2 separate regions of the Homo sapiens genome follow, and region 2 is linked to region 1. Evidence: fine-mapped expression QTL. A gene starts in region 1. The other region holds a variant in brackets. All regions are shown on one strand. Distances are from middle to middle.

Region 1 (8,342 bases):
ATACAGATCTAGGAGTCTGAGTAGCCGCAGGGCCTGGATGGGAAAGGCTCACTTAAGTCTGGGAAATGCAGCAGGTGAGTTGAGAGCCACGTGAGACTATGCAGCCAGAAGGATAGAGGGGGGAAGGCCCTGAAACAAAGAGATGGAAATGGAATAGTGAGAGGCTGGGGTCAGAGGATTGAGGCCAGTCTTAAAACTAATTTCAGGAACACTGAGTTCTCCTCTTCTATGTGGCTTGGCAGGCGTGCTGCATTTGGGGCCTGATTTTAAGTATCCAGAGCTGGCTTTATACCATTATAAAATTTTTGGCTGGGAAAAAAAAAAGAGTTTCATAAAATTTCAGGCATTATGCTCTCCCATGGTACTTCCTGGTGAAATGTCCAACCTGTGATCTCATCTAGGCGTAATACTAACTCTACTTTGACTAACAATCTCTTTCATTATTAAGGGTGAATTTTTAATTCAGAATTTTATTCTTCATGTATAAATTATGTTATCACCTAGTTGGCTTTGTAACATAATGAATGGATAGTAGCTGTAGTTATCATTCTTTGCAATCTTTCTTTGTTATTATTCATTTACTTTATAGAACATTATGTCCTGAAAGAAGAAGCCTTCTCTGACCCCAGGCCTCCATATTGGATCAATGCCCCTAGTTATGATCCCTCCTAGCAGCCTGTACTTCTCCTTTATAGTTCTTCCCACCATTGGAATTAAATAGTGATGGCATGATTAATTGTTTAATGTCTGTCTTCCTTGCCAGATTATTTTCCCAACGAAAACAGGCACCAGGTCTATCTTAATCATAGCTGTATCGACACTGGTTCTTGCTTATAGCAATAAATTCCTTTTAAGTGAGTTATTTCATTCACTCATTGATTCATTTGTTAACTCATTTATTTAGCATTCACAAGCCCTAGGAACTGTGCTACAAACAGGGAAACAAAAACCAATGTGATCATTTCTGGATTCAAAGAGTTGGCAATTAAAAACAGAAAGTTTTTAACCATTTTATTTTATTTTTTATGTTTTTTTAAAAAAGATGAGGTCTCACCATGTTGCCCAGGCTGGTCTCAAATGCCTGGGCTCAAGTGATCCTGCCGCCTCCATCTCCCAAAATGCTGGGATTACAGGCGTGAGCCACTACACCTGGCACTTAACCATTTTAGGTGAAAGTTCCCCTTGAGAACCCAGTGAAGGAAGTGGACCCTCTTTCAAGAAGCTACTCATCTAAAAAGCACATGAGATTTTGTATTCAGCTTGGTAGGTTCACAGATCCTTGAGAATCTATTCACTATCTTCCTAAAATTATGTGGATTCTGACGTCACAGTAACTCCATGAAATACAGACTTGAAGACACATACAAGGTAAGAGGACGGGTAAAGAAGGACATCAGCATGTCCTCCTTTGGGTCAGGAGAAGCTTCCATTGCAAGAGATGTTTGAGCCACATTTTGAATGATAAATCAGATGTTACCAGGGAAAGCAGTGGGAGCATTCGAGGTTGAGAAGACAGTGTTTGGAGAAGCATGGATGTGTAGAAGTTGGAATGGTATTTAGGGAGTAGAATCAGCAGGACTTTGTGACTGATTGGATGTGGGATGTTGAGAGAGGGAAGGAATAAACTCCATGCTTCTGCCTTAGGCAACTGAGTGCCAGGTTTAGGTCTCGGTGGGCAGCCTCAGAGGCATAAACGCCAATTCAACAAAATAACAAGCTCATGGGCCACATTTTTTGTTCCCAATCAAAATGAAATAAACTTTTGTAAGTGATAAAAAGTACATTCCTTACAATTTAGATTACCCAGCAGATTGGATACAAGAATGCCAATGAGGAAATCAACATGCTTTTTAATCATAAAAGTTATATCTGTGCAGCCACACTAAGGCAGCTTTCTAATCTTTCTTCTTGAAAGAAGAGCATGGTCTGTATGGAGAAGTTAGCTGGCCACATGCAATTTGGGTCGTGCAGATTATCATCACTGCCTGAAGAATCCTGGGAGACTGCTTGCTGGCAGGAAGGGTTATGCTTCAATTATGGATCTGATAAGCTGGATGTGCTTAGTATGGTGCATTTGTAAAGAGGATTCTCAATGAATATTCAATCATAATTCATAAATTTCTTATAAATAAATTTTCCTGCATATTTGGAATCTTGGGCATTATAAATCTTGACGTATGAAAAAAATATTCATGAAAGGTACAACCCCCTTATAATTAGTTGCAGATTCAAATTTCGTATAACAGGGCAGTAGGCTTTAAATTACATCTTTTTCAATAACAGTTCCATTGGGATATAATTTGCATACGATACAATTCACACGCTTAAAGTGTACAATGCTTTCAATGAGTTTTTATTTACTTTAAAAAGTTTATGTTTTCTAACTGTTAGCAATTAAATGGTATTCCTTTTGTAATCAGAAAAGTAATACTAGGTATGCATATTTAAAAATTTGTATAACAGTCCTTATACATAAGGAATTTTCTCCTTCGATTGTGGGAGCCAAGAGAAAATATATCCTATGTGGATTTAAGTTAAAGTATAACATATGGTTAAAATATTACCACAAAAGTGGCATGTTTAGTGAGAAGGAAAGACTAAAGGTGGGTCATTCTAATGGCTTCCTTCAATGTCCTGCTGGGTAGGGGAGACCCAGTTTAATTTACAGATCCTCACTTCACTATCAGGGGCTTACAGAGAAACTTCCCCTGCTGTAACCTTCTCAGCTAATGGGTGATGTGCTGTGATAGATGTATTCTCACCCGGGATAGTGGTGATATTGTATTAAGAGGGAAAAAAAATAAATAATAACCTTGAGGTTTAACCTGAGGTATGTGTTGAATAAAAAGCCCAGCTTATCCATTTACAGTATATATACAGTGAGAAAAGTTGGAAGGTTTTCAGAATTCTGAATGTCACCTCATATCATGTGTTAGTGATCTTCATGATAGATGGCATAGATCTAAAAACCATTTTTTTTTGCTAAAATAACAATGTGTAGAAAAAAAAATAATCATTTTCCTAGCAAATGGAGAGAACTGTTCAAAAGATAAACCTCTCTGGTTTGACCTAAGGTGCAGGAATACAGTTGGCATTTAGGCTGACCCTTATATTGGTAATTTATGTAAAACAGTTTTTTCTTTCCAAGATTGCATAGTGTATAGTAGGAAAGTGAATAGACAAATTTGATCTGACCCATTTTTACATCACTGGGAAACTGTTTGTTTGTTTTTTAGAACACTGTTATTTTGAGACAGGGTCCTGCTGTGTCATGCAGGCTGGACTGCAGTGGTGCAATCATGGCTCACTGCAGCCTTGACCTCCTGGACTTACATGATCCTCCCAACTCAGCCTCCCGAGTAGCTGGGACCACAGGTAGGCCACCATGTCCAGCTAATTTTTTTTTGTATTTTCTGTAGAGATGGGGGTCGGGGGGGTGGGGGTCTTGCTGTGTTTCCTGGGTTGGTTTTGAACTTCTAGACTCAAGCAATCCTCCTGTCTCAGCCTCCCAAAGTGCTGGGATTACAGGCATGAGCCACCACGCCTGGCCTGCTAATAGTTCTTAAATGCAGCTCTTATCTTATTACTTCTGCAGTTAAAGGCCTGTTTAATGCTTGGCACCTGACTTTAAAGCTGACTATAATATAGCACCATCCCAAATTTCCTCAGGCTTGTTTCCTCATTGTTTCAAACATATATTGTTTCAAAGACACAATTTTTATGTGTGACTGTTTGCTTATATTGTTTAACTTCCTATTGTATTTGCTTTTAATAAAGTCTAATAGATGCTATGAAAACAGCCTTACAATCTCTTTTTCTTTTCATGAAGCTCACTGTCTACTACAATGCTTAGTGTGCCATTTAGGAGGACCTATGAGGAGGGAGTTTTGCTCAGGCTTCTCTGCTGCATAACCAGGAGGCTGATTTCTTACAGAAATTACCACTTGTAATTATATTTCCTTTGTTGCTTTCGCTGGCAGGAAACTCTAAGTTTATGAATCTCTTCTTTAATACTAAATAGATTCTTATAGCATGACTTTATTCGTATTTTTTCCACTGACCTAATTTATTGTTCTGGCCTTGTGGGAGAAGGGGCAGTGGTCCTCTTTGCCTTTTAAATTCAAATACTCATGTATTTTTGCAAACCATTTCAAATCTTTTTTTGGATCTAAATGGAATAGGAATAACAAATTTAAATTAATGCTCAACTTGCTTATTTATAGACTTTTTGCTCTTGTTTTCCTTTTTTCAAACCTCATCCAGCCCTCAAATCCAGCTTTTCCATGCACCCCTTCATTCTTCACTGATCTCCATTTTCTCGGAGCTCTTGTGTTAATATAATTTTGCATTTTACTAAGTATGATTTTGGATACCTCCTAGTGTTTCATGTGTATTAGTCCTGTAGTTCTGGGTTGTAGTTTTTTTAGTGGTAGGGACCATGGCTCATACTTTTCTGAATCTAGTAAAATAATATTGTATCAGAAATGCTTTCTGTTTACACTATAATTGTAACAAACATTGAATTTTTTAGCTTATTAACTCTCAGAGCACCCAGTACATCTTATTTAGAATTGCAGGAACCCATTTTTGTTTCTCTACAGCAGCCGAAGCTTGTTTCATAGATCTTGCAAGACTATTCAATCATTCAGTTAAAATTCCTTGACCTCCTGCTGGATGATGTTCGACAGGGCATTCATCTTCACGACACCCTTCGCGATGAATGGTAACATCTGGGCGGGTAGAGGTCCATTTCTACAGCAACCTGGGGGAGGAACAGGTAGGGTAGGTTTTGGTGTGGGTGCGATTCTTGGGGACTTCTTCAACAGGTAGGACATCAAGTCTGTAGCCAAAACAACACCTGGGCGAAGGGCAAATACCGGAGCCCCGACCGGCTCACGCCCAGTAATGCTTTCTCTGGGTTCTAACTACGTGATCAGGTCGTCTTGGTTTGCCAGGGAAAGCCCAGCGTCTTGACAACCCTGTCAGTTCCGAACAAACCGGGTCGATTGGTCACCGGGGCTCGAATCCCGACTGATATGACCCAGCGGGGACAGAGGATCCCCCTCAGTGCCACAAGTACATTCCCCACCGAGCAGCGCGCCTGCGCCAGTTGCTCTCATGCGTCAAGACTACAGGTCCCAGCAAGCATCGAGGCCCTCTCCAGGCCATTCTTCCGCCGGCGGGGAGCTCTCGTCGGCGTATTTGTTAGGTGTGGCGCGGAAGAGTCCGTGCGTGATGACGTCGACGCGGCGACGTCGAGCTCTTCCTCCTTTTCACGGCGTCTTGCATTACTATTGTGCGGCTGCAGGAGGTGTCGAGCGGCGTTATTTTTTTTTGCGGTTTGCCTTTTTTTTTCTTTTTTTTTTTTTTGGAACCGCGGTTGTTTAAAAGCCTGAGGGAACCTGGAGAGGGGCTCCCACTCCCTACCCTCTTTCCTCCGAGTTTGTGACTCCGAGATGGACAAAGTGTGTGCTGTTTTTGGAGGCTCCCGAGGCATTGGCAGAGCTGTGGCCCAGTTAATGGCCCGGAAAGGCTACCGACTGGCGGTCATTGCCAGAAACCTGGAAGGGGCCAAAGCCGCCGCCGGTGACCTCGGCGGTAGGTACCAAACTGGAGTTGTCCAGTTGTATGGCCGCGGTCCAGGCGCCTAAAGAAAATCTCCTTTGTAAAAAGAGCGGGTCTGGCCTTTAGGGCTCTAGGGTTACTCGATGTAGCCGCGTGCAGGCGCTCTCCCGTTCCAAGGGTAGAATGCGTCTCGTGCAGAAACCCGCGATCTCCCTATGCCTCGCAGAATGCCGGCCACGCAGCTTGCCGCCGAGGGCTGAACACTTGGGGTGTTCTTTGAGACCTCGTAGTCTTTTGAGGCCCCGCTATACGCACCCTCCGCCCTGCGGCTAGTGCTAACGCTGAGGAGCTTCCCTGTTGTGGGAGAGAGCCACGTAACAGTTTACTTTTAATGTAGGGAAAAGGGCGAGTTCTCGGCCCCCGGAGACAGGGCTGGGTCGAAAGGAGTTCAGGCAGGAAAGGTGGGAGTGCAGGTACCAACGGCTCCCTTCAGTTTTGCCCAAGGGCCGTGCCTTGGCCCTGCGCGAATGCACAAAGCAGTGTTTGATAGAGAAACCCTTTTGAGTACCAGCCAGTTTTGAGATATACCTGGTTTGCTTTAATGTTATTAAATTGTTTTGGTGAGTTTTGCAAATGGACAATTGAACTTTGTTCTGCCAAATTCTTTTTTATTGCATTTAAACTTCAGGGTTTTTTATTTCCGGCTTATTATGAATGGATTAGTCATTTTGTGAATATAACTCTTCATTGAGTTTAGGGAGAAATAGGACGTTAGATCCGAAGATGCTATTTGTTTAATCACCAGAATGGACAAAATTATACTTCATTTACTATCAGGGAGGCATGGGGAGAATAGAGGCCTAGGGGTGCGTCTTGTGGCTCTTACTGTTTTTGTGTATCTGGTTTTTTTTTTTTTTTTTTGAGAGGGCTTCCCATTATGTTGCCCGTGCTGGACCCCAACTCCTGATTTACTGGCTCTAGAGATCTTCTCGCCTCAGTCTCCCAAGGACCTGGGACTATAGACGCCAGGTGTGGCTGTTCATTTTTAAGTTAACATTATTGATCGGTTTGGTATCACCTGTTCAGTGCTGGTTGGGAGACTATTGGGCTCTCTAAAAGAAAAAAGATTCTGTAAGTTATAGGTCAGGGAGAGTGTCAGTGAATGCTTCTTGAAGCTCATATTCCTTACCATTCTAACAAAGGAGGGGAAGAGTGGTGACCCTTACTGTGTCACCCCAAGCCATCAGTGTTTGCTGGACTGGATTGAAGCCATTAGTTGGGCTTTCAAAGGTGGTTGTGGACACAAGTCTTCGGGTGAAAACCAAGAGTAAGAGAGACACAGGATGCTTTTGGGCCCTGCATTCCTTTGAATCGTGTTCCATGAGTGATTGGTTTTCATCTAGAAAGTATAATTCCCCGGGTCGCTTACTGTTTCCAAAGGCTTGATGGGGTAGTGTTGGTGTAAGCATATTTATCAAGGTCAGACAGAAAATAAAGAATTGTTTTAGCTTTTAAAAACAATCCTACATTTTAGAGTATTAAAATGGTAGATTACATAGGGAATGCTTTGTTTTCCTTTGAAGTGTAGTTTTTTTTTGGCATTTAACCATTTTTTAAAAGTGGTAAGTAACAGTTGCTTTTAGTAAAAAGTGTTTTTTTCCCCCCGTGGTTTGTAGTTTTAGCATTTTTATAGCTTCCTGTGTTGTCTCATCTCTCCTGATGGTCAGGTTTGAATAATAGTCGTTATAATATATGTGCCATAGTGCATCCGTAGCACTTAAAAAGAAGAAACCCAAGAGTTCCCGTTCAGGGCCAAAGAAACTAATTCAACAAAAACCTGACAGAATTAGACATAAATTTCAAAAAAGGAATATAAAACCCAGAAGACTGTCGAATTGGGTAGCATGAATTCAGTGTTAAAGCTATAAATATTAGATGAATCTTACAGAGCCTTTATAACTTGAAAAAGCCCTCCCCCCTTTGTTGATTAAAAAGAAAATTTTAAAATTAACTTTCTGTAGTAGTACTTTATTTCCTCTTTGTTCCCGCATCCCAGTTTCATTAGACCAACTCTATGAAAGCCAGGCCTCATGACATTACTTTTTTAATCTTTAGGTTCTAGATTAGCACAGGCCTGCCATCTTAGATAGATGCTTAACAAATGTGTATTGAGTAAATTTAAAATTTGAGTTATAAGTAATTCTTATTTAACTTTGTTGTGTAGGAGATCATTTGGCATTTAGCTGTGATGTTGCTAAAGAACATGATGTTCAAAATACATTTGAAGAGCTGGAGAAACATTTAGGTCGAGTAAATTTCTTGGTAAATGCAGCTGGTATTAACAGGTTGGTCACAGATTTAAATAAGTTTCTTATATATATATTTAAAACTTTTATTCCTAATATGTCTTTGATTGGTATAAGTTAATATGTTTATTTTGCTTCTAACTGGGAGAAAAAACTATTTTAAAACTTGTCAATCCATAAATTATTTTCCTTTATATTGAGATACAACATATAATAAATGTCCAGTTGAGTCGATTTTAACATTGTAATCATCACCCATATTGAGCCGTAGAATGTTTCCAGTGCTCCAGAAGGTAGTGTCTTCTCAATACTTCCTTGTTGGTAACTGTTTTCTGAGTTTTGTCACCACAGATAAGTTTTGCCAGTTTGTGAACTTAATACTAATAGAATCATGGAGTGGATATTATTTTTTAAAAGATGAATTTAGGAGAGAATATTTAGATAACATATTAATTTTCTTGCTAAACAAGG
Region 2 (8,342 bases), 130 kb after region 1:
TAATAGTTTTTGCTTCTTAGTACATTTAATTCAAATTATTATATTGAAGAACTGTAACATTAATTGCTTATATCTTCCTTTACTGAGCTTTCTTATCTGTTTTTCCACAAAGAAAAATAAGAGAAAATTAGAATTTGGACTAATTTATGTTTGTACATACATACATAGGTGGTGATGGGAACTGTAGGTTCTTTACCCAAATAGTTAGGTCCTGGAAGAGGACAATTTATAGCAATGGTGACACATGCATTATTTGGTGCCTTGTAGATAGCAGGTACAAATGCTTGCCTCCCTAGTTGGAATGAGCATCACAATCTACTACACAGTTTATATTGCATTCATCCTTGAAGGCTATGAAAATTAGATCCTGAACCTAGAGTTTGCTGTTAGGCCACCTCTGCCTCCTACTAAAATGAATGTGTCCAGCCTATCAAAGATTCTCTTCAACAAGCATGAGCTCCATGACATATTACATTGCAAATCTGACTTTTTGCAAATGTACGTGGCTGGAGACATGCCAATCTTAGCAGTCAGTGCTTGAAATTGAAACTTGAGGGGGAATAAGAAAACATTCCAGTGGGCAATTATTTACAACGATTAATATTTGAACATTTTTAACTTACAAAAATGGCAGTTTCATAGAGGCTATATGGTTTAAAAATACAGAGTACTTCATGACTTTGTGTGTCATCCTTGCACAGAGGCCATGCTAATCTTCTCTGTATCATTGCAATTTTAGTATTCACACTGCCAAAGCAAGCACTCAACATTATTTAAGTGAGATGGCAAAGACCCCCCCACATCCTAAAGGATGGTCCTTGATCACAAAGGCTAATAACCAAGTTGGGGAATAAGTTAAGGAGCAAACCATGTGGTACCAATTCTAGATGCAATGGGAATAAAAAAGAAACAGAAAACAGTGCTGGCTAGAATGACTGCAGAAGACTCCATGAAAGAGGCAAGTTATAAGCCCTTGAAAGATGACAAGGATGTAGACAAGTAGAGTGGAGAAGAAGAAGAAATTCAGAGTCAGCGTGAATAAAGAAACAGACGTGATAACCTGTTTTTTTGTTTGTTTGTTTTGTTTTAACCACTTAAAAGCTGTGTGGTTTGGGCTAGTGACCTAATGACCATATGTCTCAGTTTCCTCCTTTGTAAAATGTGGGTATTAACAGCTCGTATCTGATGCGATCACTGGGTAAACTACATGAACTAATGTGTACTAAACACTTAGAACAGCGCCTGGTGTAGTAAGAGTGGATCTGAAGTGGCAAACAGAAAATATTCAGCATGGAAGTAAGTCACAGAGACAAGATTGGCTGAGATAAACAGAATGGAAGAGGGGAAGGAGTTTAAAAAGATGCCAAGAATTCTTGACCAGAATTTACAAGAATGTGCAAATAACCCTTACTGATTGCCTTCTCAGTGTTCAACTCTGTTCTAGGTGCTAGAAATACAATGTTGAACTAGGTCACAATAGTTAGAAAAATTGTATTTTTATGGTGGATATGGCAGAAAGAGATAAGAGAAAAGAATGGAAGGCAAGACATATCAGGAGGTGGTAAACGCAATGAAAGGACAGAAGTATGAGCAGATGACTGTATCAGACAGTGTGGTCCATCAGACTTCTGAGGAGGTGACTCTACAGTGGTGGCCTAAACCATAGGAAGTGGCTGGCTATGTGAGACCTACAGGGAGAGCTTGGCAGTGCAGAGGTCCTGTGACCAGAACCAGCCTGGCAGGGCCAACGGATGGGCACTGTGAACCCTGAGGAAAGAGGTATGGAATACAGTTTTCTCACACTTATTCTAATATGGAACCTCTTCTCTTTTTCAGAGCATCTCACTGGACTAACGTAATTCAGAAACACTTTACGAAATTAAAAGTTGAGGACAGGGTTTAGGGGTAGCATGCAAGGTGAGAGTTAGAAATAAAAGTGGAGTATTTTGAAAGGGGAGGCATGAGGAAAGAAAAGCAGTTATAAGTTTTGAGGCAAAAATTTGGCAACTGAGTTTGTTTTCCTATAAAACTAATGCTATGTTAGAGTTTAATGTAAGATGGTTGTAGTTCTGCTCCCTGAAGTGGCACCTTCTTTTGATAAATGAAGAGTAGCAACTCATTAGGAAATAAAAAGAGTGGTGACAAAGACATGATCTCCTTTTTTTTTTTGATGGTTTGCACAATTAAAAAAAAATAAAATAGTATTCAAAGTTAGTAGTTACCAAAACCAGAACTCTTCACAAAAATCCATACTCAGAGGCAAACCTTAACCAATAAACAATTTGTAACAGGCCTCCTGCACTAAATACTTCATTGTATACACACTCAGCCCAACTGTACAAAAAACATTACTGATCTGTTTACTCTGGCTTTAACAGTAAGTCATTTGTCATTTAAAAACAATATTCATGTGGTTGGGATAAAAACATCTCAAACATATACACAAGCATCTGGAAGGTAAAATTTTCCAGATTCAATCACCACCAAATCCCAAGAGGTCTCTTTTTTTGGCTACTGAATAATCTTGAAAGCATCCTTCCCTTGATATGCTATTGCAGGTCAATTCTGTGAGCAGATTTCAGAAACTCAAATTTCCAGAGCACAATATTGATTAAAGAGATAAGGTACCAGAATCAACCAGAGAATTTAACTATTACAAGTCCTCTTATTCTACTCTTCTCACATTCAGTGAAATCTGATGGTAACTAAATTCCACAAAATTTCAGAGTGAGCAAACTCATTAACATGTTGGCATTTAAATATCACTTATATTCAAGAATGTAATGTATTAATATATAAAAGAGCCCAAGATATACAAACTGAGCTTTTGTATATCAATTCTGTTTTCCTTTTACTGAATTTTACGGTAAAGCAAAGGCTGTTAAAGTACAAAAAATGGGTAACTTAAGCTCATATTTAAAGGAAAATAGATAACTTTATTGTAATATCAAATTCTCCTCATATTATATTTTGGGTTCTTTAAAAAAGAAAATGACAAAGGCACGTGGGTTACTTTTTTTTTTTTTTTTGAGACAGAGTTTTGCTCTGTCACCAGGCTGGAATGCAATGGCGCAATCTCAGCTCACTGCAACCTCACCCACTGTGTTCAAGCGATTCCCCTGCCTCAGCCCTCCCAAGTAGCTGGGACTACAGGTGCACACCACCATGCCCGGCTAATTTTTTGTATTTTAGTAGAGATGGTGTTTCACCATGTTGGCCAGGATGATCTCGATCTCCTGACCTCGTGATCCACTGGCTTCGGGTTACTTCTGTTCATTCATTCTGTACAACTTGGTACACAGCCGTACAGGTCTGATTTTGAGCTGCCCCAGGGGCAGAGACATTTCAACAGAATAACCCAGTCGCAGCAGATCCTGGAGGCCTTGCCTACTAATTTGTTGGTAAATACTTGTCCAGGATTGGATACAACTTGATAAGATACTGGACCCTAATGAGCCCAGTAATAACACCTCCAACCCCTTCAGGTCAGAGAATGAAAAGCCCCCCACTATCTGTTTCCTGAAAAATAGGAGAAAGATAGGTAGATGAGATGTCTGCAAAGTACATTGCGGCTTGTATCTGTTGGATTCTTTTTCACTGGTTACTATCTAACCACAGTCTTGACTTGAAAACTGGTGAAAATGCCCTGTGTCATGAATCTTAAAGTACAGTTAAATTTGTTACAAAGTTTTCCTTGACTCGGGGATTCTGATTTGCTGCTTCTACAACAGCTTTCTTTAATCAAGAAATGTTAGACATTAGAGTTATTTGAGATGAACCTAAGTCACGCTATGCTCTCCTTGCTCAGGCATTTCTTCCAGAACCCTGGGAAATCCCGTCACCTCTTGAGTAACGATGATAGTGTCCCCACCTACCCGTTTCCTAT[G/C]AGGGAGAAAGAGAGCGACAATGAGATAATGTCCATAAGGAGCTGTGGGCCTATATAATAAAAGCTGTCATTAATACATCTGTATAAAAGCTCTTATTGACACATGCTCTTCTTTGTGACAAACATGGGGCAACATTTCAAACCAAAGCCCTGCTTATATAAAAGAGGTAGTTAAGAGCATACAACATTGTGGCACTGTGGCTATGTGGCACTCCCTTATGAGCACAGATTCCAAGAATGTGAAGATGGCAAAAGAAACAGTGCCAGTCTGGTTCCAGGGATGGGTCTGATCTGATTCACCCTTCAGACTTAGTATGGCCACTCAGAGACCAGCAGAGCAGAACTGCCACACTATGCCTGTCGGCACTGCCAAATCTTCTGGGTTTCTTCTGTGTCTTAGGGCTGATTTACTATGTGGAGAAACATGGTTACAGCAATGGAGGCTGTAACACCAACTTACCAGCAATAGTGAGGGGAATAGAATACATTAATTTTATAAAAGTGCAAACAGATTTCTCTCTAAGGCATGCTCTCCTTACTGCCTCCATCTAAAAGAGTTTGTCAACTTAATATTTGTATCTGTTGACAGCTTTGTGCAGGGCAATATTTTGCCAGTGACCCCAGTAAATTTGGGGAAGATGTAGCATAAAGGAAGAAAGGCATTTGAGGAACTGTATGTATAGAAGTTCCCCAGACCGCAGTCAACCTCTCTCCGGCTCACAGAACAGCATGCAGTTGGTTGACTGCGGTCTGGGGAACTTCTATACATACAGTTCCTCAAATGCCTTTCTTCCCCAGATTTACTGTCTTTTGCCTCGGCTTTGTGGTTTATCACTGACATCCATGACCTTTGTTCCCTGCTTTGACCTCTGCTACCCAAACATATGAAAAACAGAACCTTATCTCCACAGACTGTTTAGAAACTTAGTACTTACTAACCTTCCTGTCTACAGATGAAAATAAGAACAGTGTGAAACAAACAGAATAAAACAGCAAGTATACAAGTATGATTAAGCAAACTAAGAGAGACTGGACACAGTGGCTCAGGCCTGTAATCCCAGCACTTTGAGAGGCCAAGGCAGGCGGATCACCTGAGGTCAGAAGTTTGAAACCAGCCTGGCCATCATGGTGAAACCCCATCTCTACTAAAAATACAAAAACTAGACGGACGTGATGGCCCACACCTGTAATCCCAGCTATTTAGGTGGCTGAGGCATGAATTGTTGGAACCCAGAGGCGGAGGTGGCAGTGAGCTGCAATTGCACCACTGCATTCCAGCCTGGACAACAGAACAAGACTGTCTCAGAAAAAAAGAAAAGAAAAGAAAAGAAAACTAAGATATTGGAAATTTACATTTAAGATTTTGGTAAAACAAGGCAAGTGAAAAAAACCTAATGAATTTCTACTTCATTGTGTTACATATAATCAACCAATTTGTTGGTACTTGATATATATGGCAAAACTATCCAGCTAAAGAAATAACACTTATAAGTGAAACTGAATATATACATCTTATGATAACTTGGCAGTTCCTGCAAGTTCCAGGATGCCAAAGTCATGGCAGCCCTGATAGGGACACTCAATCTTTGGCAAATTATTTGGATTATTATGGTAAACAAAAATAGTAACATTTTTGTTTTTAATTCAGAATGCAAATGACAGATCCCATAGTATGCCAGAGGAAAAACATGTTTCAAAAGACACATTTATCAAACCAAAATAATGAATTCTTCAAGTATGCGTGATTTAGCAACAGGAAAATTCCTTGAGGACAAAACGGTAACCACATAATAATGGCTTACTGAGCAGGCATGGAGCTAAAAATCTGTAGTCTGGTATTGCCACTTTGATGTCACAGCACTTCACTATCTTTGGGTACAGTTTTCCATGGCCACAAAATCGGCACGACTTCTCCATTAATTTTTAAGAAATGGCAGGAACGACTGGACTCTTGTGGTAACAATTATAAGCTATTTTGACTCCATAAAATGAGTCACTGTGATAGATGCTGACAAGAAGCAAGTGCTCCTGTTACTTGAGGTAAGCCATTAAAACTTGCTTATCTTAAGAAGGTTTCAAAGTCACTGATCAGCACAAACTGCTGTTTCTACTACAAATGATAAATGGCACAATCATCACCACCTTTGAAAAACGAATCTTTGATCAAATTCTATAAGAGAAATATTAGAACAGATTATTTACACAGTACTCCTCTTCCTGGGAAGCAAGACTTGGTACCCTTTTAATGAGAGAGGATGAAAAAGTGTCATGCAACAAACTCTGGCTCTTTGGGTCTCTCTAACAGCTTCTTTGTACCAAGATAATACACTTCCTTTTCTAACAGCTAAATAAAAGCTCAAAGAGAAAAAACAAGGGAGAAGGACAAAGGTTCTCCTCAGACAAGTTGACTGACAACTTTCAACAGAAGTCCATTATCACATCATTACTATATTTGGCTCCTTTTTTGGACTTGTTTCTTTATATATTCATTGGACTGTGTTTCACCCAATAAGGATTTGAGAAGAAGCCACATTTCAAATTAATGTAATCAACATTTAGGAAGTGCCCAACAAAAGAAGCATTGCTAACTGAAGCTGCCTGGTACACCTTTGTCGAGGCCCGACATAGCAATGCTTGCCTTTAAGGTGGCATTAGTGTATCCTAGCAATGGAACACTTTTATAGATGAATGAAAATAACTTGAATTCTAAGATCTTCTCCTTTTTACTGTTTAGTAGAGTTCCTTCTTTTTCTCTCTGAACAATAGTATGCTTCTGGCAAACTCTGAAGTAGGATTTCAGAAGGAAGAGTTGAGATATGGGTGCTGGCTTAACCTTTGTGAGCACTTCCTCATTTTTGAAATCTTCAGTAAAATGAGTAAGTACTAGCATTTACTCATTTTACTCTTCAACCAAACATGCCTAACACCTGTACTGTATTTTTTTGAGGATTTTACTGTACTTCTGTAGGTGTTATTTATCCTCAAAGATTTTCCATTTTAAAGACCTCATAGGGCTGCCACATCATCACTGTGATGTAAAGAGAGACATATTAGATCACCTGCAAACAGAAAGAGATAGAGGAGGCATGTAATGTATCTCGAGGTCACAGGCCAGGGACAAAACTGGCATCATAATTTCTCCACTAGGTTGCATACACCCTCATTTATCTACATCAAAACATAAAGACATTTACATGCTTTTGCCCCCTTCCAGTCAATCACTAGATTTACACAAAGGCTTATTTCTTAAATCTGTTAATTAAGGTTTTTCAAAAACACTAAGTATATACTTAATAACCAAACTCCTTCACATCCATTGTAATGCTGGCATGAAATATTATAATAAAACACATAGTTTGGTGGTGAGAGCATGGATTCGTGTCTCGGTTTAGTGGCTATGTGACCCTGGGCAATTTATTTAACTCCTAGACTCCTCAGTACTTTAACTGGGGCAATGCTACCTCTTAGGAATGTTGTATCAAATGAAATAATACATGTGAGTTGCTTAGCACAGTGCTCAATAAATGATAGCTAAGCACCCCCCCCCCCATAATGATTAAGAGAGGGCACTGCATAGATTTTGAATAGTTCCTGATGAGAATCTCATATTAATTCAGAGGAAAAAGTTCTGATTTTGATAATGTTAAGTGGCTACGCAAGAATCACTGAGTCAAATTGCCGTTAAGAATTTTTACATCGCACGGAGAGAAATGTGTGAAATGTTACTGGGGCGCTCTGGGTTGCAGGCTGATGGGAGCGCGTGTATGGAGATGTGGGAGTCCCAGGGCGACCCGAGGCGGAGGGGCAGGGAAGTGGAGGACCGCGGCGGTTACTCACGCGGGGGTGACACCCTTGGGCAGCCCCAGGGCGTTGACGGCCGCCGGCGGCGGCTGCGAGGGCAGCAGAGCGCTGAGGAAGGCCGCGGGCGTCTGGCTGTGGCCGAAGCGGGTGGCAGGCGACGAGCAGTGGGACGCCTGTCCCGGGCTCGGGAGCGGCGGTGGTGGCGGCGGCAGTGGGAACACGTCGGGCACCGGGAAGGCAGCCGTGGGGCTGAAGACCGGGGGTGGCGGGGGCGGGGGCGACGGCGAGGAGGAGCCCCACGGGGCCTCGGGCTCAGCGCCGAAGGGCTGCGCGAAGGGCGGCACGGGGGCGCGGCCGAACTGCCTCGGCGTCGGGGACATGGGCGACGGGAGGCTGGACGAGCTGGGGCTGGAGGCCGGCGTGCCGTGGCCCGACGCGGGCCCGAGGTTCTGCGCGGCGATGAACTGCTTGGGGCGCGCGTAGTTGAAGGAGCCGGAGGACTGCATGGCGGGGGCGGAGCGGGAGGCCAGCGCGCTCATGGGCTCCGGGGACGCGGGCGGCGTGCAGGCCGCGAGCTCGGGGAAGGCGGGCGGCGGCGGGAAGGGGGGCGAGGGCGGCGCGCTGCGCGGGGCTGGCGGAGGCTGCCGAGCGCCGG

Alleles and levels. Alleles are on the strand shown, and positions count from the first base shown. SD is a standard deviation of normalised expression in the study named.
As copies of G replace C in region 2, the expression in nucleus accumbens of the gene that starts at base 5,291 in region 1 goes up (small effect, 0.34 SD a copy in GTEx).

Evidence for each region. PIP is the estimated chance that this variant, and not a neighbour inherited with it, causes the effect.
Region 2: its variant is the best candidate, but not a certain one, in a credible set for the expression of CBR4 in nucleus accumbens (GTEx, PIP 0.69).

Annotation. Positions count from the first base shown.
Region 1 is chr4:169,007,204-169,015,545 of GRCh38, reverse strand. It overlaps CBR4 (carbonyl reductase 4), which reads left to right and starts at 5,291. Exons shown (of 5, transcript NM_032783.5): 1 at 5,291-5,598; 2 at 7,790-7,910. The coding sequence starts at 5,457. CBR4-DT (CBR4 divergent transcript) reads right to left here and starts at 5,117. Exons shown (of 2, transcript NR_185919.1): 1 at 5,090-5,117; 2 at 4,486-4,762. RefSeq lists enhancers at 4,912-5,241, 5,341-6,290.
Region 2 is chr4:168,877,776-168,886,117 of GRCh38, reverse strand. All of the region lies in intron 10 of PALLD (palladin, cytoskeletal associated protein), which reads right to left. It also overlaps the pseudogene RNU6-853P. Among named protein-coding and RNA genes, the nearest start is that of CBR4, 130 kb to the left of the region's middle. RefSeq lists enhancers at 4,682-4,931, 7,895-8,342 and a silencer at 7,974-8,213. The variant G/C (reference allele first, on the strand shown) is at 3,887.